Linked DNA regions of Homo sapiens. The protein of the gene in region 1 purifies or fractionates together with the protein of each later gene. This does not show direct contact. Each region holds a gene or a part of one and is shown in the gene's direction. Other genes may lie near its edges. The genes, in order: TRAFD1 and NAA15.

Evidence for each region.
Region 2: the proteins of TRAFD1 (region 1) and NAA15 purify together in Homo sapiens (affinity purification with mass spectrometry; 2 studies listed by BioGRID and IntAct, with this or other methods). This does not show direct contact.

Annotation. Positions count from the first base shown.
Region 1 is NC_000012.12:112,131,979-112,135,801, forward strand, and holds part of TRAFD1 (TRAF-type zinc finger domain-containing protein 1), read left to right. Parts: intron 1-2,759; coding exon 2,760-2,895; intron 2,896-3,034; coding exon 3,035-3,088; intron 3,089-3,823. UniProt on the Homo sapiens protein: Negative feedback regulator that controls excessive innate immune responses. Regulates both Toll-like receptor 4 (TLR4) and DDX58/RIG1-like helicases (RLH) pathways.
Region 2 is NC_000004.12:139,381,409-139,385,231, forward strand, and holds part of NAA15 (N-alpha-acetyltransferase 15, NatA auxiliary subunit), read left to right. Parts: intron 1-3,423; coding exon 3,424-3,570; intron 3,571-3,823. UniProt on the Homo sapiens protein: Auxillary subunit of N-terminal acetyltransferase complexes which display alpha (N-terminal) acetyltransferase (NAT) activity. The NAT activity may be important for vascular, hematopoietic and neuronal growth and development.

The DNA of each region.
Region 1 (3,823 bases):
AAAGTTTTAGGGGCCTTGTGTATGTAGTATGTCAACAAGTTATCCTGAACAGCCTTGTAAAGTAAATGCTAGACATTTAGTGTCTCCATATTTACCATTAAAATAAAAATTATTGCCAATATTATGAAAAAGGAACCCAGGTTTTCTACACCCTAAGCAGTAATTACTGGCTTTAATTTTCATGGCATTTGTACATACATGATTTACAATCACAATATAACATTTCTTCTTTCACTTTGTTGGTATACTATATGTAACTTAGCTATTCCTTTCTTGCTTAGGTATTTTTAATGACTTTCATTTTTTACCATTCTATGATACTGTAATGAAAATATTCATACATAATCCCAAGAGTAGGATTATTGTGTTACAGAGTATATAATTTTATGGTCCTAGAAATGAATTTTCAGACTGTTTTTAGGCAGTTTATACTACCACCAGTAATGTATTAAAGTATTCATTTCACAACATCTTTAAAAAGTTGGGATGTATTATTTTAACTAAATTAATTCAAAATGAGTAGTTTCCTTAGAAAGCTAAAAATTTGAGAGAAATATGGGAAGTTAAATCTGTCAGTAATTTTCCTCTTTATCCATTTGAGTTTTCTTCCCATCTCTCACAGTTGATTGTTCTGTCACCTTCCAGTGCTGCTTTGAGAGCTGCCTTGGGGTCCCTAGCTTGATAATTCCACCACTGGATGAAAATGAATTTGCACTTCCTTGGTGTCTTGGTCTTTCAGTTTGGAAGAATGACTATAGCTGGAGGCACATCATTTATCCTACTTCAAAATGTTTCTTAGACAATGTCTGAATATTAAAGGTTATTAAAAGAGAAATAAGCTATTTATAATTTAGTATGGGAGACAGTTCTTCTAGTATTCAGCTTCAGAGGCAAAATATGGTATTAAATAATGTGTTTTATGACTATCTGTATTGATCCTGTTCAGTATTTTATTTTTCTGAATTATTGTTATACGTACCTTCTTTAATGTAGTTTTTAGCTGGTGAAATTGGAATTTTACAATGGTCCTATCCAAATAAGTAAAAGTAAGGCCTTTGAATAGAATGTACCTTTAGTTCGAGTACATGTATAATCTTTTCATGTTTAAATGGTCTTACTCTTTCATGTAACATTATCACTTTACCTCCTTAATTTGTATAGCTTAGATATGATCTTTGAACCACTAAACTAAGTGAGAAAGGCAAAAATGAAGTGGAGAGACCAGACTGGTGGAGGAAAGGGTTCAGGATTTCATTTTTGTACAGCTTTACAGTGAAGTTTCTACCAACCCAGCCAGAGAGCATGTTCCTGTAGTCAGGAAGCATCCAGCCTGCTTCGAAAGGCATGTGAGGCATACAGGAGACAATTTCCCCTTCCCCTTTGACTGTCCAAAAGCTGGAGTCTTCTCTTTTTGGTTTGACTTTTCATGGAATAAAATCCAATGAAATTAAACTACTTAAAAGTGAGAGAAAATCAGTGGTAGGGTGTTTTTTCACTTGTTTTTGTTGTTGTTTTGGTTTGTTTTCTGTTTTAAAATAATCCTGGAGCGTATCACTCTGCTTTGGGACATGGATGGTTTTGGAATAGCCTAGCTCCACTCTTTTTGGCATCTGACTTCATGTTGTGATCAGCTCTGACTTTGAGAAAGTAAGGCTGAGCTTTTAGATGTAGTAGTGCATAGCACCGGTAACTCAGAATGTTGCACAGAAGAGCCTTCAGGATTTAGTTCTTTTTTTTTTTTTTTTTGATACGGAATCTTGCTATCCCCGAGGCTGGAGTGCAGTGGCATGATCTCAGCTTTCTGCAACCTCTGCCTCCCGGGTTCAAGTGATTCTCCTGCCTCAGCCTCCCGAGTAATTGGGATTACAGGTACCCGCCACCACACCTGGTTAATTTTTTATATTTTTGGTAGAAGCGGGGTTTCACCATGTTGGCTAGGCTGGTCTTGAACTCCTAACTTCAAGTGATCTGCTTGCCTCAGCCTCCCAATGTGCTGGCGTTACTGCACCTGGAAAGGATTTAATTTTTTTTTTTTTTTTTTTTTTTTTTGAGACAGAGTTTTGCTCTTGTTGCCCAGGCTGGAGTGCAATGGCACGATCTAGGCTCACTGCATCTTCCGCCTCCCGGGTTCAAGCGATTCTCCTGCCTCAGCCTCCTGAGTAGCTGAGATTACAGGCATGTGCCGCCACACCTGGCTAATTTTGTATTTTTAGTAGAGACGGGGTTTCACCATGTTGGCCAGGCTGATCTCGAACTCCTGACCTCAGGTGATCTGCCCGCCTCAGCCTCTCAAAGTGCTGGGATTACAGGCGTGAGCCACGGCGCCCGGCCAGTTTTTTTTTTTTTTTTTTATAGCAACCTCTGCCTCCTGGGTTCAAGCGATTCTCCTGCCTCAGCCTCCCGAGTAGCTGGGATTACAGGTGCCCGCCATCACGCCTGGCTAATTTTTATATTTTTAGTAGAGATGGGGTTTCACCATGTTGGCCAGGTTGGTCTCGAACGCCTGACCTCAGGTGATCCGCCTGCCTCGGCTTCCCAAAGTGCTGAGATTACAGGCATGAGCCACCGCGCCTGGCCAGGATTTAGTTCTTGAAAAGCAGGAATGGTAATAGTCATGAGTTTGTAGGCTAGGTATTCACTAAAGATAAATAATGGAGACTAAAGATTGGACAGGACAGATTTCCATGTGATGCCACTGTGCAAGAAAAGGCATAGATTAGTCAGTAATGCTTGCCTTTTTCTTTGGTCTATTTCCGTAGCAAAAAAGAAATTCCTGTGTTTAACTTTACCATCCATGAGATCCACTGTCAAAGGAACATTGGTATGTGTCCTACCTGTAAGGAACCATTTCCCAAATCTGACATGGAGACTCACATGGCTGCAGAACACTGTCAGGTGAGCCACCAAGTACTCAAATGTTTATACATGTGTTATACTTGCTGTTGTTCGTAAATGTATTCTGTTTGCTATTGTGCAATAGCAAATGAGCATATTGTCCCAAAGCCAATTTACTGATTCTCACTTCTTACTCTAGGTGACCTGCAAATGTAACAAGAAGTTGGAGAAGAGGCTGTTAAAGAAGCATGAGGTTAGTCCATGGAGTGAGTTACCGTGGGCCCAGTCCTGCTGAGATTACAGACCCACATGCAGAGCAGGAAGCCAGTCTGGTTGAGTGTTAGTTCTCCGTGAGCTCACATGCATACTGTTTCTCAAAGCCTGTTTGAGGCCTTGACTATGTAACTGCTGCCAGATTCGGCTACCTGGCTGTTGGAACTCACTTGTGTATGTTGAGACTCGCGAAGTATCTCCCTTTGGAACTGAGTCTATTATTTCTGTTGGGGTTTGGTTATTGGCAGCCTCACTGAATATGAAGCCAGCCCTAGAGTTGCCAGTATGGGATAACCTCTTTAGCACACAGCCTGCCTTACAAGCTGTCATTTCATTTAAAATTCTTTTTTGTTTGTTTGTTTTTTGAGACGGAGTCTTGTTCTGTTGCCCAGGCTGGAGTGCAGTGGTGTGATCTCGGCTTACTGCAACCTCTGCCTCCCAGGTTCAAGCAATTCTCCTGCCTCGGCCTCCTGAGTAGCTGGGATTATAGGCGCCCACCACCACTCCCAGCTAATTATTAGTAGAGACGGGATTTCACCATGTTGGCCTGACCTTGTGATCTGCCTGTCTTCAGCCTCCCAAAGTGCTGGGATTACAGGCGTGAGCCACCACATCTGGCTTCATTTTAAAATCTTGAACACCTGGATAACATGCTATTTAACCTAAGAAATTCCTCAGCATTTGGTGAGAGAGAATAGAGTATCATTTGCTCGCT
Region 2 (3,823 bases), on another chromosome or scaffold:
TACAGTGAAACTTAGGTCTTTTTCCTCTCCCATTTGCACAAACTCATTTTTCTTTGATCTGCAGATATGTTTTTTATACTTATGTATGTCTCCTCCAACCTTCTTTCATAATCTAATTTGTTTATTAAACCTTGTTTAATACTTACTAAATTATTAAATTTTTTATTTTTTTAAGCTTTGTTTAATTTTCTCATTTATTTTGCCGTTTTTGAGTTGTAATCACTTACTCGGTTGTACTATAACCTAGTAGTGAACAGTCATTACCTCACACAAAATAAGAACATTTTTTACCCAAATTATTAACAATGCCAGCTAGCCTGAGAACCCTGTGCAATCCCTTTTGCTAAGAATCAGCCACCTTTTCATTGTGTGTTTTAACCATTGGTGCTTGCTTAATTTATTCATTCTGTTAATAAGCTAATAGCATGAACCAAACATTCCAGTTTAAGATGTCAAAGGACCCAAATCAAAAACCCCTTAGAAAAGGTTTTATATTCCCCTTCTCGCTCATCAGTTATTACTTTTCCTTGATTCTCAAGACTTATTACTCTTTCATGGAAGGTAATTGAGTTAGTAGGGGATTTGCTACTTTCCTGAGGCCTTGATGTTTTTTGTCAGTTTTACCACATTCAAAGGCTTTTTAGAGTTTTTCTCCCCTGCCCACTAGTCTTTAGCAGTAAATGGACATCTGATAATCTGTGACATATGATGTTGCTCCTTTTCTTAAGGGTACACATAAAATTTCATTACACAGAATTCCATAGGACATTCTGGGTTTTACTGCAGTAGAATTTTTTTATCCTTTTTGTAATTGATATTTTCCTGGAGGTTAACAATTCTAGTTTTCTGGAACTGTAATTTCCAGGAAAATATCCAGAAAAGTTTAGGAGAAAATTAGTAGGCCTCAAACTTTTTGGAATCAGCTGTTAGTGAAGTTATTTGCTTCAGTTTTGGTAGAGTTTTTTTTAGCAGTTTTAATTTTTCTGGGAGATTGTTTAATCTGATTAAAACAAGTTAAAAAAAGATAATGAAAACCATAAAAACCCCTTGCCTACCCCTCTCTTCATCAACTATGATACAAACTATGCAGATATTTTTTACATGTAAAGTATCCTGAAAGCATTTCAGGCAAACCAGCAAGGCCTATGTAAATAATTTTTATTGTACAGAAGATACATTCTTTTTGAGATAATTAATGTCATTGCAGTTGGCTGTAACCTATTTTAATAACTTTTTTCTGTTTCCTCTCTATTCCTGCTTTTCCACTGAAAAACAAGTATTGATAGATTGACAAAACCAAGTTGAAAGTACAGCCATAGTAGAGGTTAAACTAAAGTATTTCACTATAGCTCATTTACTTGAACCACCCAGTTTTATAGAATAATAGAAGAAATGCTATTTAACCAACAAAGAGCATGTCAGTGAATTATTCAGCTAATAATTATGTATAGAATATTTCACTTAGAAAATGTTTCCTACTGAGTTCATTATATTTTTTAAACTTAGATTAATGATCCATTAGCAGGATAGTGGGTCATTACCAGCACTCAAAAACCCAAAATAAAAATAGAATAGTGTAGAAAAGATCAGCATATGTTGCACACAGTAAGTGTTCTGTGAAACTTTTGCTTCACATAAGTTATGGATATGGAATATGTATTTGTCGCAGTACAAATACCTGATTAAAGTGAAAATTTGAAAGTCATCACCATAGTTCCCAGCCATAAGGAAAATCTACGTAATGTTTTCACACTATGATAAAAATAGTAACTATGATTTATTGACTACCTATTACATAATTAGCACTTTTACACAGTAGCTTTTCCTTACTGTAAATCTTTTAGATTAGATATCACCCCAGTTTTATAGATCAAGAAATAGGTTCAGAGAGGTTATGACTTATCCAAGCCTGGATCCATACCCAAGTCTAACTGGCTTCAAAGCTCCAGACTCTCTCTTTATACCAAAATGATAATGAAACAAAGTATAACTTGGATTCAATCCAGAGGAATCATCTCTAAATCCCAAGGCCTGGGAATATGATGACAACAGTGCATTCATTCATTTATGTATTTATTTTGAGACAGAGTCTCACTGTGTCACCCAGGCTGGAATGCAGTGGCATGATCTTGGCTCACTGCAACCTCCACCTCCCAGGTTCAAGCTGTTCTCCTGCCTCAGCCTCCTGAGTAGCTGGGACCACAGGCACACACCACCATGCCAGGCTAATTTTTTTATTTTTAGCAGAGACGGGGTTTCGCCATGTTGGCCAGGTTGGTCTCGAACTCCTGACCTCAAGTGATCCACCCGCCTTGGCCTCCCAAAGTGCTGGGATTACAGGTGTGAGCCACCGTGCCCAGCCTATTTATTAATAGGAAAATGCTTTGGTGGTCCTTGGGAGTTTATTATACAGTGATAGCTCAATTTACATAGTTTCTGAAATAAAGGTCAATGACATCAACCATGTTTTCTTTTGTTTTTAATTGAAACGTGTGCCTTACTTGGGTATAGAGGAAGATAGGGAGGGTGAGGAAAATTTGTTGTCTTCAGCACTACATAGTTGGCTGTGATACTATTTACCAGGTGGGTATTCCCAAGTTGCTGCTTTGCAGACCTTAAGGTTGAGGGGGCAGCTCTAGGGGTTTAGAAGGCTGTGAAACTACTTGTTTTGTCATCTCCTTTGCTTACAGTTCCTTTCTGGAAATGAATCTCGTGTTAATAAAATTATTTGAATGCCTTTAGAACATTAGATTGTTCTGCTGACATACATTCTTTTTAATGTGTATTGCTGGGCATGATGGCTCATGCCTGTAATCCCAACACTTTGGGAGGCCAAGGTGAACAGATCTCTTGAGCCCAGGAGTTGGAGACCAGCCTGGGCAACATGGCGAAACCCTGTCTCTACAAAAAAATAGAAAAATTAGCTGGACGTGGTAGCTTGCACCTGTGGTCCCAGCTTCTCAGGAGGCTGAGGTGGGTGGATCACTGAAGCCTGGGAGGTTGACGCTGCAGTGAGCCATGATTGCGCCACTGTACTCCAGCTTGGGTGGCAGTAAAACCTTGTCTGTCTCAATCAGTCAGTCAGTTTATATAGGTAAGCTCTTTTTGCAAATGTTAAATTATCAGTAGGTTTTATCTTGTCTTTGTATATAATTGCCATGTTTCATTGGCCTCATCATTAGGTAATTTAACTCCTATAGGCTGGGTGTGGTGGTGCACACCTGAAGTCCCAGCTACCTGGGGGGCTGAAGTGGGAGGATTGCATGAGCCTGGAAGGTTGAGGCTACAGTGAGCCATGGTTGTGCCACTGTACTCCAGCCTGGGTGATAGAGCAAGACCCTGTCTCAAACACAAACAAAAATAAACTTTTGTAAACTTTATCAGAGTATTCAACTGCTAAGATTTTATTTTTAATTTATTCAGCAGTGTGTGAAAGTAAAGATTTATCTGATACAGTTAGAACAGTATTAAAACAAGAAATGAATCGTCTTTTTGGAGCAACGAATCCAAAGAATTTTAATGAAACTTTTCTGAAAAGGAATTCTGATTCATTGCCACACAGATTATCAGGTAATCACTTTATTTTATCCTTAGCCTTCTAAAACAACTTCAGTAATTTTAATGAATCAACAATAATATAAGGTACATGTTTTTAGAATGGAAGAGGCAGTGTGTATATGTTACATTGTGATCGTATGAAAACAGGCAGCTTAAATAAGCTTCCTAAGCTGGGCACAGTGGCACATACCGGTAGTCCCAGCTACTCAGGATGCTGAGGCAGAAGGATCACTTGAGCCCAGGAATTTGAGGCCAGTCTGGGCAA